Linked DNA regions of Homo sapiens. The protein of the gene in region 4 interacts with the protein of the main gene of each other region in a biochemical or structural test. Each region holds a gene or a part of one and is shown on either strand. Other genes may lie near its edges.

What was found.
Region 1: the proteins of HTRA1 (region 4) and KCNT1 interact in a test that uses a peptide from one of them, tested with the Homo sapiens proteins (one large-scale study listed by IntAct).
Region 2: the proteins of HTRA1 (region 4) and AMOTL1 interact in a test that uses a peptide from one of them, tested with the Homo sapiens proteins (one large-scale study listed by IntAct).
Region 3: the proteins of HTRA1 (region 4) and ARVCF interact in a test that uses a peptide from one of them, tested with the Homo sapiens proteins (one large-scale study listed by IntAct).
Region 5: the proteins of HTRA1 (region 4) and C3AR1 interact in a test that uses a peptide from one of them, tested with the Homo sapiens proteins (one large-scale study listed by IntAct).
Region 6: the proteins of HTRA1 (region 4) and SLC16A7 interact in a test that uses a peptide from one of them, tested with the Homo sapiens proteins (one large-scale study listed by IntAct).
Region 7: the proteins of HTRA1 (region 4) and ADGRA1 interact in a test that uses a peptide from one of them, tested with the Homo sapiens proteins (one large-scale study listed by IntAct).

Annotation. Positions count from the first base shown.
Region 1 is NC_000009.12:135,768,185-135,771,684, forward strand, and holds part of KCNT1 (potassium channel subfamily T member 1), read left to right. Parts: intron 1-425; coding exon 426-489; intron 490-644; coding exon 645-753; intron 754-1,762; coding exon 1,763-1,871; intron 1,872-2,113; coding exon 2,114-2,263; intron 2,264-2,672; coding exon 2,673-2,911; intron 2,912-3,500. UniProt on the Homo sapiens protein: Sodium-activated K(+) channel. Acts as an important mediator of neuronal membrane excitability. Contributes to the delayed outward currents. Regulates neuronal bursting in sensory neurons. Contributes to synaptic development and plasticity.
Region 2 is NC_000011.10:94,862,356-94,865,855, forward strand, and holds part of AMOTL1 (angiomotin-like protein 1), read left to right. Parts: intron 1-2,379; coding exon 2,380-2,505; intron 2,506-3,500. UniProt on the Homo sapiens protein: Inhibits the Wnt/beta-catenin signaling pathway, probably by recruiting CTNNB1 to recycling endosomes and hence preventing its translocation to the nucleus.
Region 3 is NC_000022.11:20,010,324-20,013,823, reverse strand, and holds part of ARVCF (splicing regulator ARVCF), read left to right. Parts: intron 1-3,315; 5' UTR 3,316-3,369; intron 3,370-3,500. UniProt on the Homo sapiens protein: Contributes to the regulation of alternative splicing of pre-mRNAs.
Region 4 is NC_000010.11:122,510,053-122,513,552, forward strand, and holds part of HTRA1 (serine protease HTRA1 precursor), read left to right. Parts: intron 1-43; coding exon 44-101; intron 102-1,917; coding exon 1,918-2,013; intron 2,014-3,500. UniProt on the Homo sapiens protein: Serine protease with a variety of targets, including extracellular matrix proteins such as fibronectin. HTRA1-generated fibronectin fragments further induce synovial cells to up-regulate MMP1 and MMP3 production.
Region 5 is NC_000012.12:8,056,360-8,059,859, reverse strand, and holds the end of C3AR1 (C3a anaphylatoxin chemotactic receptor), read left to right. Parts: coding exon 1-1,123; 3' UTR 1,124-3,016; downstream 3,017-3,500.
Region 6 is NC_000012.12:59,707,529-59,711,028, reverse strand, and holds part of SLC16A7 (monocarboxylate transporter 2), read right to left. Parts: intron 1-3,500. UniProt on the Homo sapiens protein: Proton-coupled monocarboxylate symporter. Catalyzes the rapid transport across the plasma membrane of monocarboxylates such as L-lactate, pyruvate and ketone bodies, acetoacetate, beta-hydroxybutyrate and acetate.
Region 7 is NC_000010.11:133,086,788-133,090,723, forward strand, and holds the start of ADGRA1 (adhesion G protein-coupled receptor A1), read left to right. Parts: upstream 1-1,136; 5' UTR 1,137-1,351; intron 1,352-1,920; 5' UTR 1,921-2,122; coding exon 2,123-2,125; intron 2,126-3,936.

The DNA.
Region 1 (3,500 bases), on a different chromosome or scaffold from region 4:
GGCTCAGAGCCTGCCAGGGATGGGCCAGGGAGTCTGGAGAGGCCCAGGATGCCTGCGGGGGGGGGGGGGGGGGCACTGGGATACCGGTGGGGGGGGCACAGGGATGCCTGCTGGTGGAGGGCACACAAGGATGCCCGTGGGGGACACTGTGATGTGGGTTGGGGGGGGGGGGGGCAGTATGGGGATGCCCACTGAGGGGGCACTGTGACTCCTGACCAGCAGAGAGTAGGGGCCTCCTCCCGCCTTCCATCCTCCCCGCCTTCCATCCTCTCCGCCTTCCATCCAGCCGTCCTCTCAGTCTCTTTCTGTGCACCTGCTGCACCAGCCTCCTCCCAGAGGAGGTCCTCCCCACCTCACCTCCGCACCCCCGGCTGCACTGCCCACCTCCCCTGCTCCACCCACGCTCAGGCCCTGGTGCATTGCAGGATGGACAATGGGGAGGCCTGCTTCATCCTCAGCAGCAGGAACGAGGTGGACCGCACGGCTGCAGTGAGTGAGGCTGAGGCCCTGCCCAGGCGGGAGGGGCACCGTGGGGCCGGGGAGCGGGGGTCCCTGAGGGAAGAGACCTGCCCCAGGCTGCCGGTGCCGCCCAGCAGCCCACAGAGGCCAGCCCGTCTGCACTGACCAACCACCCACCCCGCCAGGACCACCAGACCATCCTGCGCGCCTGGGCCGTGAAGGACTTCGCCCCCAACTGCCCCCTCTACGTCCAGATCCTCAAACCTGAAAACAAGTTTCACGTCAAGTTTGCTGGTGCGTCTGGGGCACACGTGGGTGATGGTGTATCTGGGGCAGGGCACGTGTGCACACGTGGGTGATGGTGCATCTGGGGCAGGGCGCATGTGCACATGTGTGACGGTGCGTCTGGGGCAGGACGCGTGTGCACACGTGGGTGACGGTGCGTCTGGGGCAGGATGCGTGTGCACACGTGGGTGTCGGTGCGTCTGGGGCAGGGCGCATGTGCACACGTGGGTGACGGTGCGTCTGGGGCAGGGCGCGTGTGCACACGTGGGTGACAGTGCATCTGGGGCAGGGCACGTGTGCACGTGTGTGTCGGTGTGTCTGGGGCAGGGCGCGTGTGCATGCTGTTGGGTGATGGTGCGTCTGGGGCAGGGCGCGTGTGCACACGTGGGTGACGGTGTGTCTGGGGCAGGGCGCATGTGCACGCAGTTAGGCGAGCTGTGTGGGGCAGCGGGAGGGGCTGGCCCTGGAGCTCCTCACACAAGCACACCAGGAGGTGCTGGAGGGGACGGCAGACCCCCATCCTCACCGCATCCGAGAAGGGACCTAGGGGGTCCAAACTCTTCAGATGAAGTCTTATGCTGGGATCCTGGGGTCAGTGAAGGCAGGGTCAGAGGTCAGGTGGGGGCAGGAGCACCGTCTGATGAGCACCTCTATGGGCAGGGACCATGCCGGGTGCCCGGGGAACGGGGGGCAGGCCCCATGCCAGGTGCCCAGGGGACAGGGGTCAGGGCCCACATGGAGTGCCCAAGGCACAGGGGCCAGGGCCTGCCCCGCCCTGGAACTCCTCGCTGAGCTGGGAGAGAAGCACAGGAGCGATGGAAGGTCCACCGAGGCTCAGACCAAGTAGGGGGTTGAGGTCCACAGACTCTCGGGGCAGAGATGCTGAAGCCGGACAGCAGACACGGGGGTGCCAGGCAAGGGTGCATCTGCATAGCACCTTCAGGAAGTGAGCAGGTACTGTGGGGGAGGAGAGAGCCGGCAGAGCGGCAGGTGGACCGGCCTCCCCCACTGCCCGCAGACCACGTGGTGTGTGAGGAGGAGTGCAAGTACGCCATGCTGGCGCTGAACTGCATCTGCCCGGCGACCTCCACCCTCATCACCCTGCTGGTGCACACGTCCCGCGGCCAGTGAGTGCCCCGTGCCCCGGGGGACCGACCTCCATGGCGGGGCCGGCGCAGGGAGACAACGCAGGGCCTGCTTGGGGGCGGGGATGGGCTTCCCAGAGGAGGGGCACATGGCGGGCAAAAGTCCTGCATAGGGAGGGGATCCATGCCAGGGGAAGCAGAGGGGGGCACCTGCAGACCCAGCCGGGGAGAAGGGGCAGCCATGGCCGAGGGTGACGCTCCCCTGGCCCCGCCCTGGCCCACAGGGAGGGACAGGAGTCTCCGGAGCAGTGGCAGCGCATGTATGGGCGCTGCTCCGGCAACGAGGTGTACCACATCCGCATGGGTGACAGCAAGTTCTTCCGCGAGTACGAGGGCAAGAGCTTCACCTACGCGGCCTTCCACGCCCACAAGAAGTAAGGCCGGGCTGCATCCACAGGGCTGGCGCTCCAGGGCTGCTCTGCTCTGTGCCCTCCCCACCCTCCCGGTCAGGCACAGGGGTGGCCCTGGGGCGGGGCTGCAGAGGGCTCGGGGGAGGGCATCAGGTCATCCTGCCTGGCGAGGGCAGCCGCAGGACTGGGCTCCGGGTCCACATAAAAACCTGCCACGCGGCTCCTCCCTGAGGCTTGTGGGCTGACCCCAGCTCTCTGGTCCCCAACACCTCTGGGACGGGAGGGCTCAGCCAAGGTCCCTGACCCCAAATGGCCCCCAGGAGGAAGACGCGGAGCTCCGGTGGGGACTCTGGTGATTTGCAGGAAGGGCAGGCAGGGAGCGGGACAGGGCGGGTGAGCGGCGGTACCTGAAGTTGCCGGTGCCTCTGCCCAGGTATGGCGTGTGCCTCATCGGGCTGAAGCGGGAGGACAACAAGAGCATCCTGCTGAACCCGGGGCCCCGGCACATCCTGGCCGCCTCTGACACCTGCTTCTACATCAACATCACCAAGGAGGAGAACTCGGCCTTCATCTTCAAGCAGGAGGAGAAGCGGAAGAAGAGGGCCTTCTCGGGGCAGGGGCTGCACGAGGGTCCGGCCCGCCTGCCCGTGCACAGCATCATCGCCTCCATGGGTGAGCCGGGACAGGCGCGCGGGACTCCCTGGGCCTGCTCCTTTGGCGGGAGACCAGGCGGGACACCGGCAGGTGACCAGGTGGGATGGGAGACCAGGCAGGACAGGGGGAGGTGACCAGGTGGGACAGGAGACCAGGCAGGACAGGGGCAGGTGACCAGGTGGGACGGGAGACCAGGCAGGGCGGGAGACCAGGTGGGACAGGAGACCAGACCGGGCAGGGCAGGAGACCAGGCCAATGTGGCCCCCAGACCCAGTTCCTCTTGGCCTATGCCTCCAACCTTGGACAGGTGGAGTCTCTCTGGGCCTGTTTTTGAATCTGTCAAACAGGTGTCCCCGCCTTCCTGTGGCCACCTTTGTGGGCATTGCTCACTGTGTCCAAGTGCCTGTCCAAGTGGGGCCGCCCACAGGACCGGTTGGCAGCTCAACCGGAGGCTCCTGGTGGTCCCATCAGCCCGGAGGGTCTGCTTCACGTGTGTCCCTCAAACAGTCGGGAGTCCTGACGTCCACTGGGGCCAGGAGTTGGCGGAATGAGGTCGCAGTGGCCGAGGGCTTTGGCCTCTTCTCGTGCCTTCAGGGATCCTCCCGGG
Region 2 (3,500 bases), on a different chromosome or scaffold from region 4:
TATTGACTAGGTGCTAAATGGCCACAGTCAAATTGGTAAAAATGACTATTTCCAGCCATTAGTTTTGTGACTTTTCAACCACAGATGCATGCTTTATATTTATAATCAATGATTTTTAAACAAAGAAAATAACTTCTGTAAACCAACTGGTTTTCCCATCTTTATGCATCTTGATGGTGTTGGTCAGAATTTTTAGAGAGTCAGCTTATCTTTTATGTGTGCAGAAGGTTTTGAAAATTTTTAAAAATTTCAAAGCAATGTAATATTTCTTTCAGAGTTTTATATATTTACTATCTAAGTTGCTTTCCTCTAATTGTGTTTGCTCTCCTTACTTGGCAATGTAAACATGAATTTTCAGATTTGTTTCCAGCTCCATGTAAAGTCTCCAAAAGTAAATTTGTTGAAAATGTTTCTAGCCACTAATTTCTATATTGATGATTTTGTGCACCATAGTGTGAATTTATAATTTTGCAAATATGTTTAAAGCATTTTGTTTGCTTTCTACATCATTTGGCCTTTAGTGTATTTTCAATGACACTTTGCACTTTTCTGAGCCACATTCTCACATATGCCCTCTGGTTTGTTTTTATCTTTACTCATCTTTGCTGAGACCTTCTTCTTAAAGACATATGAAACTTGCAGGAGTATAGAGCGATGGTTAGGGGCATGGACTTTGGAGTCATAAATACCTGAGTTAGAATCCATTTTCACTATTCACTAACTGAGTATTCTTGGAAATGTCACCTAACCCTGGTTTCTTCATCTAGAAATTGAGGATAATAATACCTTGTGCACAAGTTGTGAGAACTAAATGAGAGACCATGTGTACCGTGCCCTACCCAGTCCCTGTATGAAGTAAATGCTCATTAATGTTGATAGCTGTCATTAAAGGGGCCTCTATTTTTCTGTTTTGGGCTATTCTGTAAAAAAAAAAAAAAAAGCTTTAAAGTTTTCAGGCGGGGCGCGGTGGCTCACGTCTGTAATCCCAGCACTCTGGGAGGCTGAGGCGGGTGAATCACCTGAGGTCAGGAGTTTGAGACCAGCCTGACCAACGTGGTGAAACACCATTTCTACTAAAAATACAAAATTAGCCAGATGTGGTGACGCATGTCTGTAATCCCAGCTACTTGGAAGGCTGAGACAAGAGAATCGCTTGAACTCAGGAGGTGGAGGTTGCAGTGAGCTGAGATCACGCCACTGCACTCCAGTCTGGGCAACAAGAATGAAACTCCATCTCAAAAAAAAAAAAGTTTTTCAGTATGATTGTACATTGGAATATGAAGTTAAAAGATGTGAAATACTTGGCTACATCATGTCTTACTAATTAAATACTCATGTAGTCAGAGCCATTATTGTGCCTTTCATCTTGAGCTATATCACTTAGATGATGCAGTGATCTTATTTTTACTAATCATTGTTAGTTAGTAGTAATTAAATTGTCAAAACCAGTGGCAGGAATAGTTATCTGTGACTGGTTGTTTATAGTCAGACAGATGCTTGCAGTGAAACTGCTTCTTGATCTTCTCGTGTCTGCCCTTGCCCTCACTGCACCCACCTCACCTGAACTTGTCAAGGACAGTGTCTGCCTTCTTCTTTCTGTCCTGGACCCTGGCATGCCTATTACATTGTCCTGACCTGCATCCCAGGCAGGGCCCATAAAACAAGAAGTGAGACAGAATACAACATGAAGGAAGACTTCAGCTTGGAGCCTCACTCTCTGAGAGGACCAGTCTCAGTTTTAAGTATTTACTGAGCCCCCATTTTACTGTAAAATACTGAAGTAGGCATTCTATGCTGTATGGATGATAAACAGAAATAAAACCTAAACTCTGATTGGAAAAGTGAGGTATAGGACAAGCATGAAAAAGTACAAGCATGGAAACACCAACAAATACAATAATAATAATAATAATAATAATAATAGTGTCCATAAGTCAGTAGATTAAATCTCTAGGTGCCCATTTTACATATTCATAACATGCCATGTAGCTACATACATAATGTAGTCAGAAGGGGGAGGGGACTTGATTTTTGAATTTTATTTTGTTTTCCTTAGATGCTGCTTAATTCTATCTAGTTAAGGAAGAGAATTGGACAGAATTCAGGAGAGGAAAAGTGGGTGAAGGAGTTTGTGGAGTTTTAGCACGGCACCCTGTGATCACCTCTCCACAAGCATTTACACCTTTCTCTGTATGGGCATCAGATGAGATTGATAACTGAGCTGGGGAAATTGGGAGGGAAAGGCTTCATGAGCCAATGCGAGATGCAGAGCTGATCTCTGTTCCAGCATGAACACCAGCCTCTCCATTCTGTGTCTGTTTGCATTGAGACAAAGCAAGAAGGTTTCCTATGATCAAACGCATATCCTTGTGTTGCCAGGGACACCACGATCATCAACCACTCACGGAATGGCAGCTACGGAGAGAGCTCGCTGGAGGCCCACATCTGGCAAGAGGAGGAGGAGGTGGTGCAGGCCAACAGAAGGTGTCAGGACATGGAATACACGTAAGGGACGACTATGTGTGACGTGTGGGGCCCGCTGCATTCACACTCCAGGCCTTCCAGAACAGATTGCTTCTCTGTCCTGTTCTGAAAGGCTGTGAGCATGAGGTCTCCAAAAACTCTCCTCCCCCATGCTGTGCCATGGAGAGAAGGAAAAGGTTCCAACCTAAGCACGTGGTTCCACTCAGCAATGGATCTGGTGCCGGAGTTCTCTGGGGGAAATTGCGTGTCACCTGCCGGTTTTAAGATGCAGGCTGAGTCTAGTGACAGAAGAATTTAGATGTCTGTGTTATTTCTTGGTGTCTATCTCTATGACATTATGAGCTGAAAGGGGGAAACATTATATCCCAAAGATTCAGAGTTTTTGAGCCAGAATTTATATATTCCAGTCCAAAATAAAGAACATATTTAGCTAATGCACTCTTCTGATGGGCTACACAAAATTTCCAGCAGACTTTTTGACATAATAAAACTAGCCTGTCCCCCTTCACTACCTAAGGGCTTGTGGAACCCTGGGAGCCCTAGGCCTCTTATTTTGCAGATGTGAAAATAGGGCTGAGTAGTTGAGCCATTGATAGATAGGCTCAGTGAGTTACTATCAAAGTTGTGAAAATAACTCAGCATTCTTCCAGAAAAATCATCTTCTACCAGAGAACCTGTTCATCTTGGTTCTTTTTTCTTAGAAAATAGAGAAATTGACTTTAGCTGAAAGCTCACCCTGTTTGAGGCTTTAGAGTTTTTATGCTTCCCTATCCCCTACCTACCCCCGGCCCCCACCGCCAATGCTAGACCCTCTAAATATGGTCCCCAGCCGACTTCGGTCCAGGAATGTGGCCACGGTCATTCTAACTGTACCTCGCTGAAGTCCCAGTCTCCCAAGGTGCCAGAGAAGGTGTACTCTTTTGACATATGACAAAAGACCTGTCTTAACAATTTGGAGATTATCAACATTTGAAGACTCGTACTGTGCTTCATCCTGTATCCCTAAATTACAATTA
Region 3 (3,500 bases), on a different chromosome or scaffold from region 4:
CTGAGGGGACTTGGGATCAGGGATCCCTTAGTAGGTTTTCCTGGCTCAGGGCCTTCATATCTTGGCCTGTTTCAGGTCGGGAAGATGACCCAGAGCTGGTGGGTGCCTGGGGCCACAGAGTTCCCCCCACTCCATAACCAGTTATGCACAGGCCCTTCCCACTGCCCCTGCTGATTGAGGGGCTGCCGCCTCTGGCAGAGCAACGGGGAGCTGAGCATGGCCACCAGAGGGCAGCTGGGACCGCCACAGCAGGCAAGACCGGCTCCACCCAGCTTCCTGCGGCAGACCAGGACCCTTCCCCAGACACCTGGCTTGGATGACCGGAGCTCGGCCTCCAAGCCGCCTATTGAGGGCGTGGAGTTGGAAAGGAGCCAAGCAAGGCCCCTCGGTACCCCCAACATGCTTGGTGCAGGCAGAAGGAAGCCTGAAGGCCAGCTGGTGGGTGACCACACACAGGCTCAGCAGGGACAGTGAAGGACTAGCCCTGTGCCTGCGTAGCCCCAAAAGTGCAGTGTCCTTCAAGTGTGTGCCCAGGGGCCTCCCAAGCCTTCCCAGGTGTGGTCTGTGCCTCAATGTCCACAGCAGAAGTGGGCGTGTTCTCACTATGTGCCCAGGGTGGCAGCAGGCCTAGGAGAACACTCGGTTTTGCTGTAGTGGACAGCATTGTCATTGAGCAGCATGGACCTTCCCTGTCCACTGGCCACGGGGCACTCCATTCACCTGCCTGCATTGGCTGTTGCCAGGGCATGTTCTCAGCTACCTACAGTCAGTGTCACCTCGCGCTCATAGAGCAGGAAGCGAGGAGACTTGGGGAGGGGGTGGCCTGCTGAGGCCACACTGCAGGGAGTGCAGAGCGAGCTCACCTGGGCCCCTCATTGCCTACCCAGCCCAGGCTGCATCCTCCATCCCAGTTCTGGGCCCAGTGTGTACCCATGGGAGCTGCCCTGTGCCGTCAGCTATCCAAAGGACTGTAGCTTGCCAATCTGGCTGTGTGGCCTGGGCCAGGCTTATGCCCCAGTGTGAGACCTCTCAGCCCTCTGGTTGGACCATGGATACCGTGCCAGAACCACAGGGCTTACTAGGGCATCAGTGGGGTGTAGCCAGGGGCTGACAGAGCCCCATGGCCAGCCATCGGGTCTGGACAGTTTGGTGGGGAGACCCAGTGTGGGGGTCCCATGGCATGGGTAGGCCCAGGCCATCCTCACTGGGAAAAGGGCCCAATAAAGGGCGTGGTCATTCCCCCGCTTTGAGGCGGCTGGTACTGGGTCCTTGGCCAGGCAGGTGACCCCAGAGCTTGCAGAGCACTCAGGGGGGCTCCCCAAGGTGAGCACCTCCCCACCTTCCCATATGATCCTATCACTAGTTCTGCCTTCACATCACTGTCCTGTCTGTCGTCCCTCTGTCCGTCCACTGCCCAGAGCTCCCTTAGGTTGTCCACAGATGCTCTGCTCTGCCCCTGCCTGTACGATGCTGATGTGCCTAGTGCACCCTTAGGAAGGATACCCACAGCTCTGGCTGCTCCTACCACTCAGCCTCCTGTGGTGCTGCTATCCTCTGCTCCCACCCATCTCCTGGGGGAAGCCCTCTCCAATGCCTCACTTGGACCCCTTCCCAGGGTCTGCTATTGGCTCTACCATATGGTTGCAGGTTCTTGGCCTGGCTGGACCCCATGAGGTAGGAGGCCCATGAGGAAGGACCCATGTTCTCCTTTGGTCACACTTCCCCAACTGGGTGGGGGGGGGGGACTTTGGGAGGCCTGGAGGCAGGAAGACCTGAGTTAAATCCTGGCCCAGCCCTTGTCTGGCTGGGACCCAGTTTCTCCATGTGTAAAATGGGGTATATAGCCAACCTGAGACACCTGGTAGAGTCAGTGAGATGACGGCTCACAGCCAGTGTGTCTCGGTTCTGTGGCACATGGTGACTCCGGGGGAGAGGCTGGTGCTTATCAGGGATAAAAAAAAAAAGTCACATGGTTCTCTGTGGTACAAAACCTATGTGAACACTTAAGCTAAAACCAGAGGTTTCCTAGAAATGTCACACTCAGAGCAAAAGCTGGTTCCTAAGCCTCAGACCTTGGAGTAGGAGCAGCATCTCCTCTTCCTCGGGGCGCAGTGCTGGTGGATGGGCTCCCAACCGGGCCTGCCCATCTCAGGTGCACACACACACTCATATTCACATGCACGCACATGCATATGCACATGTGCCTGGCTTGGTCCCCAGTTCTTCCCTGCCTCAGGCCCTGCATCCCACCCCCCATGATCCCACCCTGAGGCGTAGCCAGTCGCCCACCCTCACTTGGACCCCTTCCCATGATGAAGAGGCTGTCGTGAGACGGGGAAACACACCGTTGGGGCACCAGAATGGACCATGACCACAAAGGACTATTGGGCGGGGCCTCAGAACAATCTAGAAAACACCGTAGAGGCGGGGGAGAGAGCTCTCATTACCGATGTCCCCCAGAGACAGCCTCCCATCCGAGGCCCAGCCCTTCCCTGTCTGTCTGCAGTGTCCTGTTTTTCATTTTTATGACATGAACACTCTGGCAATATCCCCGGGCCTAGATATAAGGAGAGGGAATGTGTCCCCGGGGCCATTAGCTGAGACAGGAAGCCGCAGGGTCCTCCCCTGAGGAAGGCTGAAAGCTGTGTGAGTACAGGCACCCCCTTGTCTCCTGCTCCAGCCCATAAGCCTCAGCTCCCCAGGCTTGAGTGCCAGGTCCCCCATCCCAGACAAATGGTTATTCACACCTGGCCACAGCTCCAGGGCCAGGAACCTGCCTGCTTCCCCGCCCTCCCTGTACTGGAGACTGTTGGGGGCAGCTGCCTGCCTGGGAGGGCCCAGGATCTATGTTGGCCTCAGGGAACCTCAGGAGAGGCACGTGGCCTCGCCCACAAGGCGGGAGCGGACTCTAGGGAGGTGGAGCAGATGTCTTATGGGGCTGTGAGCACCTGCGTGGGGCAACAGGACCCTGAGCCTGGCTACCCTGGGGTGGGAATACTGCTGTGCTGTGTGTGATGGGGAAGACGTCATTATCAGTCCACATCTCTGAAGGATCACGTTTCTGAAGGATGGTCAACAGCATTAGACATGCTGACAAGGAACCGTGGCAGCCCAGTGTCACCTACAGTCCTGGACATGTGGGGGCAAGAAGGTACACATGAGTGTGTGGTTATGAGTCAGGAGCACCACGGGATGACCTTCAGATCAGGCATGACAAGGTCCTGCTTAGAGGACGGTCTGGGCTTGTGTACCTTTATCCGGCAGGGACCTACCCAGCTGGATTGACCTCACTCATGCCCTCTGGTTTCCCTGCAGGAGCCAGAGCCTGCAGGGTGGGTGTCGGGACATGCTGATCTTCCCTCAAGACAGGTGAGTGGCCTGGGTTTAGCTTGGGGACATCCTCTCCCACATAGGACAGCAGAGTGTTCTGGTGGGCCTGGCGGGTGGGGGTGACAGGGATGGACTGGCCCTGGACACTGTGTGCTCCTGGTCCTTCTCAC
Region 4 (3,500 bases):
CCAACTGGGCTGACCTTCTGCTGTCCCTTTGTTGTCTCACCAGGAAAAGCCATCACCAAGAAGAAGTATATTGGTATCCGAATGATGTCACTCACGTCCAGGTGGGTAAACAGGATGCGTGTCTGTGTCTTAAATTTTAATAAACCTGAACTTCAGAAGGTGCTCACGGGCACCCCTGAAAGAGAAACCTTATGCTGCCTTAAGACGTCTCAGTTTCTGCTTATAATGAAGTAGCATCGGGAAAGAGGACAGGTCATTAGCCTTGGCCCCTTTGTTTGGTTTTAACCTGTGTTTTTGCATTCTGAGCTGGTTTTCTTCACTGGCAGCAGGCCCTCCGGTGTAGAAGGTTCTGCCCTCCTCTTTGAAGGCAGGCCTGAACAGTGTGTGCGTGGTGGGGCTGTTGATTCACTCTGGCTCACGTCTTCCTTACCCCACATTCTGTTGAAACCCACATTCCAGGAGGGCCCCAAGCCCCTCCCGCAGCTCTAGGCACTCTGCTTTCGTTGCTCTGCAGCTCGTGGGCCGCGGCTCCAGGAATGCCAGGGCAGGTCCAGCGCAGGGAAGTGAATGACTGATGTGCTTGTTTTCCCCGAGCTGGTGGAATTGCGGCCTGTGGTTGGCAGGCTCATGGCATCCTGGTGTTCTAAACTGGATGAAAAATTCTGGTGTAATCTCATGAGTCCTGGTAGTAGACTCACCTGGCATGGCTAAAACTGTCAGAGGTAAAGTAGGTAAAGACTAGAATATAGTAACAGATAGATTAATGTGTTCATTACTATGATGAATTAATGATTCACTCACTGTGAAAGTATTAATATATTTTGATACATGTTATGAATGGTGGTCCCTTTCTTAGCACTCCAGAAGATGGAGCCATTTGTCAAGGTTAAAGTGTCCCCTCAGTTGTTTGCCTTTGGAACTACGAGGTGTAGGGAAAGATGGTAAGCCCTTGGTGCCCAGCTTCCTGGGTTCCTGTCCCTGCTCTGATATGTCCTGCCTTGTGACCTTGGGAACGATATGACCCCTGAGTGCCTCAGTTTCCTCCTCTTCAGGATAGGGATGACAGCGCAGGTGCTTCTGATGTGTGGCCAGGCTCAGATCAGGGAGTGGTGGCAGGGGTCACCAGCCACAGTGATGCCAGCCACTATGTATCACACGTACTGGGCCAGGTGCCTTACTGGGATGATCTCATCTGATCCTCACAACTCATGTTGTAGGGTACTGTTATTATCCCCATTTTGCAGGTGAGGAAATGAAGGCACAGAGAAGTTAAGCAACTGTCCGAGGTCACACAGCTAGCAAATGGCCGAGCTAGGGCTGCAAACCAGGCCAACCACTGTACTTTACTGACTCCTTAGTAATAGCTACTATTAATTAAGAAATAATAACAATGATGATGGCTGGGTGCGGTGGCTCACATCTGTAATCCCAGCACTTTGGGAGGCCAAGGCGGGCAGATCACTTGAGGCCAGGAGTTCGAGACCAGCCTGGCCAATTTGTGAAACCCTGTTTCTACTAAAAATATAAAAAATTAGCCGGGCTTGGTGGCAGGCACCTGTAATCCCAGCTACTCGGGTGGCTGAGGCAGGAGAATTGCTTGAACCCGGGATATGTAGGTTGCAGTGAACTGAGATCGTACCACTGCACTCCAGCCTGGGCGACAGAGCAAGACTCTGTCTCAAAAAAAAAAAAATAAATAAAAAAAATAAATAAATAATAAAGCACTTTCCTTGCTGTTACCAAGTAAATCTTTGACTCTGGTAGACAGGCAATTTTAATTTTAAAATAGGATCAGAATTCCTGGAGGAATTTTACCTTAGACCTAAGGAGAAGACGGGAACTGGTGAGAGCTGAGTTTTGCGTGAGGAAGGCCTGGTGTTTCTTCACACTAACACGGGTGCTTTTTCTCTGGAGCAGCAAAGCCAAAGAGCTGAAGGACCGGCACCGGGACTTCCCAGACGTGATCTCAGGAGCGTATATAATTGAAGTAATTCCTGATACCCCAGCAGAAGCGTGAGTTGGAGTCGTTTTCTCTTTTCCCAATATTCTTGTTGTTCCTGTGGGGGTAGCAGGAAGAGGGAGCGCTGTTCCTTTTCTACTGGCTCAGATGATTATGTTGATCCTTGACAGACGTGGTCGGACGTTGCTTGTCATTCCTGCTGGCCAGGCCTTCCGACCTGGCTCGGCTCGGGACTCATCCATAGGAGGGTGCCTTCTGTCTTCAAAAGTCCTTGCTCCACGAGGACCCTCCAGATGGACAGAGCAATAGCAGACTCGTAATGAGTCTCTGAGATGGCCCGGCTGGCCAGAGAGAGGGTTTCAGGAACAGTGTCCCCAAGCCCTCACTTGGTGGTCCTTTTCTAGGCTTCAGGACCCTTCTCTTCCTGGAGTCTTCCAGAATGTCTCTGACAATTAGGCCCATACCTGTCAACACCTCCAGAAAAATAACCCAAGTGATATCAAAGTAACATGACAAGAAGTAGCTCAACCATCCATCAGGGTTTGTTACCTGTATTGGCGGAATATCCAGAGAAAAGTGCGAGACCAGGGACCAGCAAATGTGCCTTGGGGGCTGGATCTGGCCCACTGCCTGCTTTTATATGGAGCTGTGGGCTAAGAATAGTTTTTGCATTTTATTTTTATTTTTACTTATTTTTTATTTTCATAGGTTTTTGGGGGAACAGGTGGTATTTGGTTACATGAGTAAGTTCTTTGGTGGTGATTTGTGAGGTTTTGGTGCACCCATCACCCAAGCAGTGTACACTGAACCCAATTTGTAGTCTTTTATCCCTCATCCCTGTCCCAGCCTTTCCCCTTGAGTCCCCAGAGTCCATTGTATCATTCTTATGCCTTTGTGTCCTCGTAGCTTAGTTCCCACTTATGAGAACATTTAAATGGTTGAAAAAATCCTGAAATAAGAATAGTATTTTGTGACATGTTAAATTTGTATGAAATTCAAATTTCAGTGTCCACTGTAATTTGGTTTATGACATCTATGGTGGCTTTTGTGCTGGAACAGCAGAGTTGAGTAGCTTCAACAGAGACCATATGTACTGCAAAGCCTAAAATATTTCCTATGGAGCCCTTTACAGAAAAAGTTTGCAGACCCTTGTGCTAGCCCATGAAGGACCATGACAGCGTTTTGACGCTGAGCTATATAAGAGCTACAGTTATAGTGGCAACCACACAAAGGAAGTGCCTCTTAACAGAAACATTCCGCCCACCCCTATAGGAACTGCATTCTGAGTTGCAATACCCATTATAAGCAAGTTGGCCAGATAGTGGCCAACTATCTGGCAGATATCTGGCCAACTACGTGGCAGATAGTACCTGGTACATCCTTCCCCACTTTGGGGTCAATCTTGACCTTTGATCTCCTTGGGGTCATAAAGCCACACAAGTGTTAGTAGGCATTTCTACAGTGGACACAATGGATGATTTAGCCTAAAAATCTCAAAAGGAGCCCAGCATCCTGGCACATGCATGTAATCCCAGCTACT
Region 5 (3,500 bases), on a different chromosome or scaffold from region 4:
TGTCTTCCTGCTTACTGCCATTAGCCTGGATCGCTGTCTTGTGGTATTCAAGCCAATCTGGTGTCAGAATCATCGCAATGTAGGGATGGCCTGCTCTATCTGTGGATGTATCTGGGTGGTGGCTTTTGTGATGTGCATTCCTGTGTTCGTGTACCGGGAAATCTTCACTACAGACAACCATAATAGATGTGGCTACAAATTTGGTCTCTCCAGCTCATTAGATTATCCAGACTTTTATGGAGATCCACTAGAAAACAGGTCTCTTGAAAACATTGTTCAGCCGCCTGGAGAAATGAATGATAGGTTAGATCCTTCCTCTTTCCAAACAAATGATCATCCTTGGACAGTCCCCACTGTCTTCCAACCTCAAACATTTCAAAGACCTTCTGCAGATTCACTCCCTAGGGGTTCTGCTAGGTTAACAAGTCAAAATCTGTATTCTAATGTATTTAAACCTGCTGATGTGGTCTCACCTAAAATCCCCAGTGGGTTTCCTATTGAAGATCACGAAACCAGCCCACTGGATAACTCTGATGCTTTTCTCTCTACTCATTTAAAGCTGTTCCCTAGCGCTTCTAGCAATTCCTTCTACGAGTCTGAGCTACCACAAGGTTTCCAGGATTATTACAATTTAGGCCAATTCACAGATGACGATCAAGTGCCAACACCCCTCGTGGCAATAACGATCACTAGGCTAGTGGTGGGTTTCCTGCTGCCCTCTGTTATCATGATAGCCTGTTACAGCTTCATTGTCTTCCGAATGCAAAGGGGCCGCTTCGCCAAGTCTCAGAGCAAAACCTTTCGAGTGGCCGTGGTGGTGGTGGCTGTCTTTCTTGTCTGCTGGACTCCATACCACATTTTTGGAGTCCTGTCATTGCTTACTGACCCAGAAACTCCCTTGGGGAAAACTCTGATGTCCTGGGATCATGTATGCATTGCTCTAGCATCTGCCAATAGTTGCTTTAATCCCTTCCTTTATGCCCTCTTGGGGAAAGATTTTAGGAAGAAAGCAAGGCAGTCCATTCAGGGAATTCTGGAGGCAGCCTTCAGTGAGGAGCTCACACGTTCCACCCACTGTCCCTCAAACAATGTCATTTCAGAAAGAAATAGTACAACTGTGTGAAAATGTGGAGCAGCCAACAAGCAGGGGCTCTTAGGCAATCACATAGTGAAAGTTTATAAGAGGATGAAGTGATATGGTGAGCAGCGGACTTCAAAAACTGTCAAAGAATCAATCCAGCGGTTCTCAAACGGTACACAGACTATTGACATCAGCATCACCTAGAAACTTGTTAGAAATGCAAATTCTCAAGCCGCATCCCAGACTTGCTGAATCGGAATCTCTGGGGGTTGGGACCCAGCAAGGGCACTTAACAAACCCTCGTTTCTGATTAATGCTAAATGTAAGAATCATTGTAAACATTAGTTCTATTTCTATCCCAAACTAAGCTATGTGAAATAAGAGAAGCTACTTTGTTTTTAAATGATGTTGAATATTTGTCGATATTTCCATCATTAAATTTTTCCTTAGCATTGTCTAAGTCTTCCAGATTCCATTTAAAACCATTTCTTGTTCTCCTACGTGAGTGAAAGATGATCATATATCCTAATGCTTTGTTGTCGTGTGGTGTTGATGGTTTTAAACGAAAAGAAAGTGCAAAAAGAAAATGCCTGTGAAGACAAGAAGCCATGAGACTGAGTCTGGAGCATAGGGTTATGCAATGATGCCTGTCCCTGGGAACACCCCTGGGTACAGGATATAGAAATTTCCACTATTACATAGAGTTTCCACTATTACAACTAAATAAGCATCTATTGTGTGAAAACTGACTCATGAAATGTTATGAAAGCTGTGGTTTGGGGAGTTCTGTTTCTTCTAACTGCCTACCGGTTGGGCACCTATTTTCCACTCCTCTTCCTAAGCTCCTTAATTTCCTTATTACTCCCCAGCCTCCAAATCTTCCACATCAGACTTTGTGCCTCAAACAACCTCTAATTTCGTAAGATTCTAGTTACTCCCTTCCTCTTGCTCCAAATGAATACTTTCTAAGAAAGTATTTCAAGTGGAAGGAGAAAGAGGGTGGAGGATGGAGCAGCAATTCTTCTACTCTCTGCAACTGAGTACCCTACCAGGCTTGCCATCACATTTTAAAACATGACGACAGGCAACTTACATGCCAAAATTACCAAATATATCTTCTGGGTTTTTTAAATCCTTTTCTTTGCCAAAGTAATACATGCACATAGTTTTAAAATAATTTAATAAGGTATATAATGAAATATGAGGTCTCCTACCTCACTGTGCCCAAAAGTTCCCTCCTCCCACTCTCATTTCCCAGAGATAATCCTTGCACAATTTTAGATGTTTCCTTTGATAATTATCATGATGTTTCTAAATCATGTGCTTATGCTGCTCTTTTCTGGAGGCATGATAAAACGACTTCTTGTTTTGAAAGATGAAGATGTTTATCCAAGCACCCCATATTTTTAATTTGTTTATCCAGCATCCCAACATTCATTAATAACCATATTTTAATTCATTCATGACCACATATTTTTCTTCTACTTTGTCTATACACTCCAACCATTTATATAGCTTTCCTTCTGTCCCTTTTTCATTTAAAACAAAATTACCTAACTCCCTACCACCTTCTCATTTTTCTGTATATATAAATGTTTGTGTCAAACGTCTGAAATTTCTGGCTTGTTTGTATCACAACGTGGCCTCATCTAAACCAAATACAATGATGTAGTCTAAAAACAGAAAATGACATGTGTTTTAGACCTGCAAGACACTATCTGTTCAATGGCTGAGGTGAGGGTCTGGACTACAGATTTTTTATAAAGTATATGCAGAAAAATTACAAATCACTAGGAATTCTTTCAGTTGTGAAGAATGTCTGACATAAGATTTGAAGTGCTACCTTTCCAGCTTATATATTAATTTGCTTATATATTTGATATGAATAAATGCTTTTTTTCTCATGGGTCCTTGCGAGGCTCAGAGATTTATGAATCCTTTTGTTTCACATTCAGAATATATCACATCTCTAAATATGCAGCAAATAAGTCTCCTAGTGAGTGACTATAGACTTGCTATAATAGCAATTAGCCAGGCTTCCAGAAACCCCAGCACATCCCATAAGACCCTGGGAATAAGACCTAAACTCCTGGGGTTAGTGTATAGGATATCAAGGTGAATAATCTTGACGCAGTTATAAAGATTTAATGTACAACGAGTAATCAGCATTTCTGGACTCCTTTTCTTTTCCATTTGCTTTGGAAATGTATTCTGAAGAAATTCCTACAATTAGAGCTCCCTCATTTCTGATGAAAACCTGGTGAGTACCTGTAACTATTTTGTACTGTATCTTCTCCAGGAAGTCCCAGATGGGAACACAGCTCCTGTCCAAAGTATAATATCTTTTCTTTTTTTTTTTGAGATGAAGTATCACTCTGTAGCCCAGGCTAGAGCACAGTGGCACACTTGGCACGATCTC
Region 6 (3,500 bases), on a different chromosome or scaffold from region 4:
GAAATATGAGGCTGAAGTGTTGGTAGACATCTTCCTTGTGCCAGGGGAAGAATATCAACATAAATAAACAAAGCTGCCCTCTGGAAGAAACAGAAGAGAGAAGAGAGAGTGTAACATGCTGGACAAACAGAATTACTGGTGCTAGTTGAGCTGGAAGACATTGGTGTCTCTGCTTCTCCTCTGATTTGTATACATGAACATTTCTCTTTAGGCTTTAGGGTATCTGTATCAGGTTTCTGTCATTTACAACAAAAACACATCTGCATAAAGTGAGTAATGATATAATAACATATTTTTGAAAATTTTTAAGCCAAAAATCAGGAAAGATAGTCTTATTCTTGTCAGGTCATAAATTAATAAATAGGTTCTTTTTATACATCAGTAAGTGAAAGGTTCACTGTCTGAGGCACATATATCAGTCAGAAAAGATTTCAATAAAGGTTCTTAGAATTTCTGTTGAAAATAACATTTAGTAACTATCTGATATTATTTGTACTAGATTATCAGCCCTCTGTAGGGAAAGTGTGTCCTGGAATAATTTCAAAGGCTCTAAGCACACTTCCAATCTGTTGTTGACCTCTGTCCCCTTTCATCCCTGTTTTGGAAGAGACACACAGATTTCATCATAGAAAGCTCCAGGGCCATGATTCCATTCCTACTTTGTGTTTTGAAGTCCTTGCCTCTCACTTTTATTCCATGAAGACTGGCAATGATAATATCCACTCACAACTTCTTTTTCATTTGAGAAAAATGAACATGCTCTGAACACGCTCTGTCTTACTCAGTGACCCCACAGTAGTGATTAATAGGTTGACTGCTAAGCCCTAATGAATGTGTCAGATCTTAGGTGTTCTCTAGGCTACCAAAGGATACCTCTTCTCTAACAGAGATCTGATAGAGTAGCACTTGTACATTTCATGATATAATATAAGCTAAATTGACTAAGGCTATCTCATAGTGTGTTCTCATCCCATGTAATAATTTATATAACTTATATTGTTGTTACACAATAAACCAAGCCCTCATGTTTGTAATGATCAGTATAGTCTATATAACTGTAGAGAAAGGGAAGATGCATGCCAGATCAAACCACCTTGTCCAGGAGGTGTCCAGAGGGACAGATGTCCTTCCGCTTATATTTAATTGGTCAGAACTAGTCACTTGGCCTCAGCCTAAGGGGAGGAAAGCTGGGAAATATAGAGGAGTGCATGGATGCACGGTGAGCATAATAGTTTCTGCCACACTGTACCATATTTCATAGAAAGCTTTAGTAATATTTATGCCTACAGATGAAAAAAAGAGTCTAACATGGCATAGATATAAAAAGTCCACAGCCTACTTGCACAGGGCTGTCAAAGTGTACCTGGTACTTTTTGCTTTTTATAAATCTAAGATGAAAGCTCTACCTATCTCAAACACAGGAATGGAATGACTTTCTTTTTTTATTGCTGCTAAGATATTGCACAGCATGAATTATTTTAATAGCCTCCCTCATTCTGCAAAATATTAGGGCACAATGTAGAATAATATATTGAGCTTATTTAAAATTTTAAGAGAATAGAAAAATACATATTGTACATTATGACCACCAACCTGCTATGTTAAAGCCTTTTGCTTCTCGGCCTCCAGTAAAATAAGCTCAGTGTTCTAATGTTCAATCCCCATGTAAAGTAGTTCATCACAAAACTATCACCCTTACTTTAGCACAATTGGCCGTCACTATTCACATAAAACAGAAAAATAAGTTACCATGGAGACAAAGCCAATTCTTCTCTCCAGAATGGCTGATTCTTCCAAGTCAGAATAGATTTTTACCAGAAAAGTCATATAAAGTACTCACAGAAACTGGCAGTCCAAATCTGTCGCCAGTAACTGTAGAGGTAACCATATATAGATTATCATTCAATAGAATACAAAAACAAATATTGCACTAAAAGATAATCCTATGTAATCACTATTTACAAAATAAAACCCTATGTCCTTCTAAACAGTGTAGAAAGTTTAAATTATGTTTTCTACCTCTACTTAGTGCTTTATTAATGGGGTGACCACACTGTTTGACCTATTTGCTAAAATTTGCTAGATCTCCAGGAGAACATATGGACATCCAGATGGATTGCTGTAATGTGATGCCATTATTCTAAGGATGAAGTAAGGTATAAACATAATTTGCATTCTTTTCCATCCTTCCTGCGAACCTTTCATTAGTTTCATTTTTAATTCAGACATCAGAAGGGAAGATAATACCTTGCTACCAAAGCCCAGATACCAACTAATTACTACAAGAGACTCCAGTCCTGACATCACAGGCCAGGCCTCTGAACATGCTCCATCTTACTCAGTGACCCCACAGTAGTGATTAATAGGTTGACTGCTAAGCCCTAATGAATGTGTCAGATCTTAGGTGTTCTCTAGGCTAATGCAATTAGCATTGTGTTGAACAGAATATTTCAGCTACTTGCTAGAGAGACTCATTATACTTCACAGTAAACTATGTCTTTTCACCTTTGCTCTCCAAATTTTTTTTATAATCATCAACCTAAAAGGCTCCTATAAATATATTTCACATAGTGTAAGAAAATTTAAGTATTTTAAAATCAAATAGTGATTTTCTTCTACAACAGTGAACCCCTGTGTTGTATATAAAGTGAAGTTGTTTTCAGAGATGCTTGTTAAAATGCAAGTTTCTGAACTCTAACAACAGAAATCCTGATAAAAGGGGATTTGGGATAAGGCCTAGGACTTCATTTTTAACAAGACTCATGACTCAGAAGCTAAGCATTCTGTAGACCACAGTTGAAGAAAGACTGCAATGTGAGTAACAGGACTAATACCTGTGTCTTAGATTAACTGACTATATCAGACTTTTTGTTCTAAATAGTTACTATGTTTCTGAAAAAAAATTATCTGCATCCACATTAAGAAAATTATTTCCACATTAGATTATAATTTTAAATGTGCCAATTATTTTTGGTTAAAAGATTAGAAACTAATTATCAGGATAAGACATAGATGTTATTTCCAACAAACTATGTAAACGTGTAAGATCTATATTCAACAGTGGACATGGCAGGTAAAAGCATTTTCATCCACTAGACAATGGGCCTAGAATTGTGTTTCCAGTTTTAAAAGAAGGACCAAAGGTGAGCAGAATTTCTGCAATTCCTGACTTTTCTCTATGGCCAGAGATGAAACATTTGCATGTTTTAGCCCCGATAATGGAGGACTTTAGGCAATATTCCAGGTACTTACTTGGATCTCACCTAGATATTGCCTTCATCAATTACTAAATACCAAGAATTTGTATGTATCTAGCACTGCTTTCACAAAACAAGCATATATAAAATCCCTGTTAATATTTAACTTAGACATATTTTATTCATCTATCACCCTAAAAATTTTAAGGCAGCTTTTTCCAAATTTATAACTATTTTAACAAACTACCATTTTCTTCATGAATTTCAGAAGAGTTCTTTTGTGCTTTTAAAAAATTATACCAT
Region 7 (3,936 bases), about 11 Mb from region 4:
CAGCACAGTGTCCCCACAGAGGGGCTCTGGGAACACCAGCTAGATGGGGCAGTGGGGCCCTGAGCACATCCCGCTCAAAAGCCCCATAATGAGAGGCCGGGGAAGCGGAACGCTGTCACCCCTGCATCTAATTCTGCCTCTGTGAGTCTTCATGACAACCTCCCAATAGTACATCCTTCAGGCCCCTCAAAATCCATGGCAGCAGGGCCTGGGGACCCCCTGAACAGGCGCCAGTGTCACAGAACCTGGGGCAGAAGTAGCCATGCAAGGGTGGAGGCCAAGGAGGGAACAGGTGGAGGGGTGTGGGGTCACCCAGGGCCAAAGGGGGAACAGGTGGAGGGGTGTGGGGTCACCCAGGGCCAAAGGGGGAACAGGTGGAGGGGTGTGGAGTCCCCCAGGGCAGTTCCTGAGACTCTTGCTGAGGCTGCCACCAGGCCAGCACGTGCCCCAGAAAACGGAGTTTGTGACGAAAACTGGAGTGGACTTGGACCCACCTTGTCGGGTAGGAGGCCCCTTGGGGCAGGATAGGGACCTGTGGGATGTGTGCAGAGCCCAAACCTCGCTGCGGGTGGGAGGCTGGGCTGCGCCGCCCCTGGCACCCTGGCCTCCACACTCGCCTTGGCTCTGGATGCCCAGCTCTGTGGCCCAGGATGCAGGAGGGTTGGGGTAGGGGGACAGGGACGCTTTCTGCACAGCCACAGGCCCTGTCTGTCTACACCGGCTGCGGCTGCCCTGCTGACTCACACTCAGACGGGTTCACGACAGGTGCACCTCGGTTCTGGCATATCTGGACTTGAGAATGTTAAATAAAGGATGGAAAATTCCTTCCAAATCCATTTTCTTGTGTATATTTCTGTTCCTGCAGCTTCTCCACGGATGGAGATTGTCTTTGGGAATAACACAGGGTCGTGCAGTCCGCCCGGCGGCGTTTTCGGGCGAGGGTCTGGTGCTGGGGAGCGAGCGCGGAGCGAGGTGTCTCTTTAAATACGCTCTGCAGTGTGACGGCGGCCGCCCGGCTGGAAGAGCCATCCCCACCCTGCGGCAGGAGCCCGCCCGCCGCCATCGCCCGCCCCGGTCCCCATGGTTACGCGCCTGCCTCCGGCCCCGGGTCCCCGCTGTCGCCGCGGGAGGTGCGCGCAGAGGCGGCGGCGCTGCTGGCCGGGCTGGGCCGCTCGTGCGCGGGGCTGTGACTCACCGGCCGGCGCCGCAGCCCCGCAATCTGTTGATAACTCGGTCCCAGCTCGGCCGCTGCCCTCGCGAATGGAGAGCGGGTCCCCGGCGGGGGGAGCGCAGCGCGTCTGTCTCCGGGAGCGCGGCCCGGCCGCCCCGGCAGCCGCTTCGGCCACAGCAGGTGGGAAGGACGCGCGGGTCTGGGCGGCGGGAGGGACGCGCGGGGCCGCGGCTCGGCAGAAAAGCTCGCGCCCCGAGGTGACACTGGCCGCGAGGAAAGCAGCTCCGAGTAACTTTCGGCTCCGCTGGGGCGGGAGGCGCCACGGATAATCCAGGGCCCCCGCCCCGCGCGCCCGGCCCGGAGCTCGAGCCACATCCAGGCAGAGCAGGCGCCGCGGCCGGGCTGGGGCGGGCGGGTCACTCGGTGCCGGTTCCCGGTGCAAACCCCCCGGCGCGCCTCTGGCTTTGTGCAGCCCGAGATGGTTGAGTTTGGCTCCGGAGCCGGGAGTGGGGCGCAGATTGATTTTTAAATATGGAGAAGGAGACGCATCTGCCGCTGGCGCGTTCGGTCCGAGCCCCCCACCGGTCCCCACCGGCACCGCCTCCGCCAGCCCCAGGCGCAGCCCCCAGGCCGCCCGCGGAGGGGAGGGAGCGACAGGGGCCGCGGCTGCTCCCTGGCGGGGTCGGGGCTGCGAGCTGCCCTCCGCGGGGACCCTCCGCCCGCCCCGCTGACCGCCGCTGTCTTCACAGATGGGAGCAGCTCCCGGACTGCGCCCGCCCCGCCGCGGTCACCCTGAGGCCAGGGGCCCGGGAGCGCGACCTCCTGGCCGCCGTCTGGGACTTTGACCTTCCAGAGGCCATGGAGGCTGGCGGGGAGCAGGGCGCCACCTGATCGCCTCCCCCTGGACGCCTCCTCCAGCGGCGCTCACGCTTCCGCAACTTTGCAGCGCTCATGGTGAGTACGGGGGTCCCGGGGGTCCTGCAGCTGGGGGCTAGGCCGCTGCGGGGGGGCGGCCACCCGTATGGGGACTCCCAGGCTGGAAAAGTTGTGGAATGGCGAGCTGGTGACCGGGCTTCCGGGCTCAGTGCCGGGGTGGGAGGCTCTGTGGAGTGGGGGCCGGGGACAGGCCGCGTGTCTGGGCACCTCTGCTCCCCGCGTGCTGGGTGCTGATCATACTAATGAGTTGCAGGCATATGGCAATGTGGAATCATTTAATCAATGGAGGCGACGTCCCTCCCGCAAAGCTGGCATCCGTGCCCTGTGAAAACCTGGTCTGTGCCTGGGCTGGGGTCCCTGCCACCCCAAGCCCCTCCACCCTGGTCACCGGCCTCCTCCACGCCACCCTGCCGGCCCCTTCCCATTAGAAAGTTGATGAAAGGCAGTGCGGACAGACGTAGGTGGGCTTCAGCAGTGGAGGCTGTGGCGGAGAGAAGGCGGCCGCGCACACGGCAGGCACGGGAAGGGTGTTTCAGCGGGAAGGGGCTCGTGGCTGGCAGCTGGCTGGATCGGCTAGCCGAGCCCATCGTGGGTCCCTCCCTGAGGCACCAGCAAGCTTTTGCTGCAGTTGCTGAATGTCTGGGTTCCGGAAGGGCTGACAGCTGAGTGAACAATGCATTGTGTGTGCTGGTAAGGGACAGCTGACAGGCGGTGAGGACCCAGGGCACGTGCAGAGAATGCCAATGGCCTCTAGAATGTGCGGCCGCCACAGACGCCGGCTGGCGTGCTTCGGAGCAGACCCAGTGTTCGCTGCATAAGGAGCCATCGGTCTGAGTCACTTGCTCATTTTCTTCTTGTTCCGTTCGAAATGTCCAAGCAAGAGAGATGCCTTTGCCAACATTCAGTATCGTCTTCCAGTGGCTGCTTCACCTCTGAGGCTGGCTGAGGTCTCCGCACTTACCTTTCAGACACCTGACAAGGTTGCGTCTCCAGCACCAGCAGCACCTCAGGGGGCAGCAGGCCAGCCCCAGGGCTCCTGCCTGCCCCCAGGCTCCCACCAGCCTCAGGAACCATCGCTGTTGCCCCGCAGGTACCACACCCAGCGCAGCCCCAGGCCTCCCAGTTGGCAGGATCTGTGGCTTTTCAGCCTCAAATTGAGACCCTTATTTGCAAAATGGAAAACTGTCATTGACAGAGGACAGTGAACGGAGAAGGGCTTCTGAAGGTGGGGGTGCTGCCGCAGCCCGGGGGTCCCTCTCATCCCCTTCCTCGCCTCCTCCTCTCTAACCCTTGGCCCTTCTGCGAACAACTGTGCGGGGGCCTCCCCAATCCAAGAAGGGCACCACCCCTCGCAGGCTGAGCCTGTTCGTGCACTCTCCTCTCAGCTCCTGGCTCCTGGTGGAGCTTCCTGCTACCACCTCCTCGGCCCGGGGCCACCCGGTCCCAGCCGGCCTGGCAGCCCAGAGCTCCTGCTCACCCAAGACTGTGAAAGCCTGCTGAGCTCGATCTGCCTGGAGAGTGTGGCATTTCAGCAGCTCACTGTTTTTATTCACAACAAGTAACATTTGCACCTGAGAAAATCTCTGAAAGTGTGAGGAGTTGCCCTCCCGTGCTGCATCAGTCTGGTGCAGCATTTTTCTGCATGTGTCTCCAAGTTCACAGCGTAGTGTGACAGCGTAATTCACAGCACGTGTCTCCAAGTTCACAGCGTAGATACCTGGGCAGGCTCACCCCATGGCCATGGGGTCTTGAGAAGGAAGCCTGGAGGCCGTGGCCAGGGCAGGGTGGCCCTGACTCTGCCTGCCCCACTGCTGTGCTCTGGGGGGCTC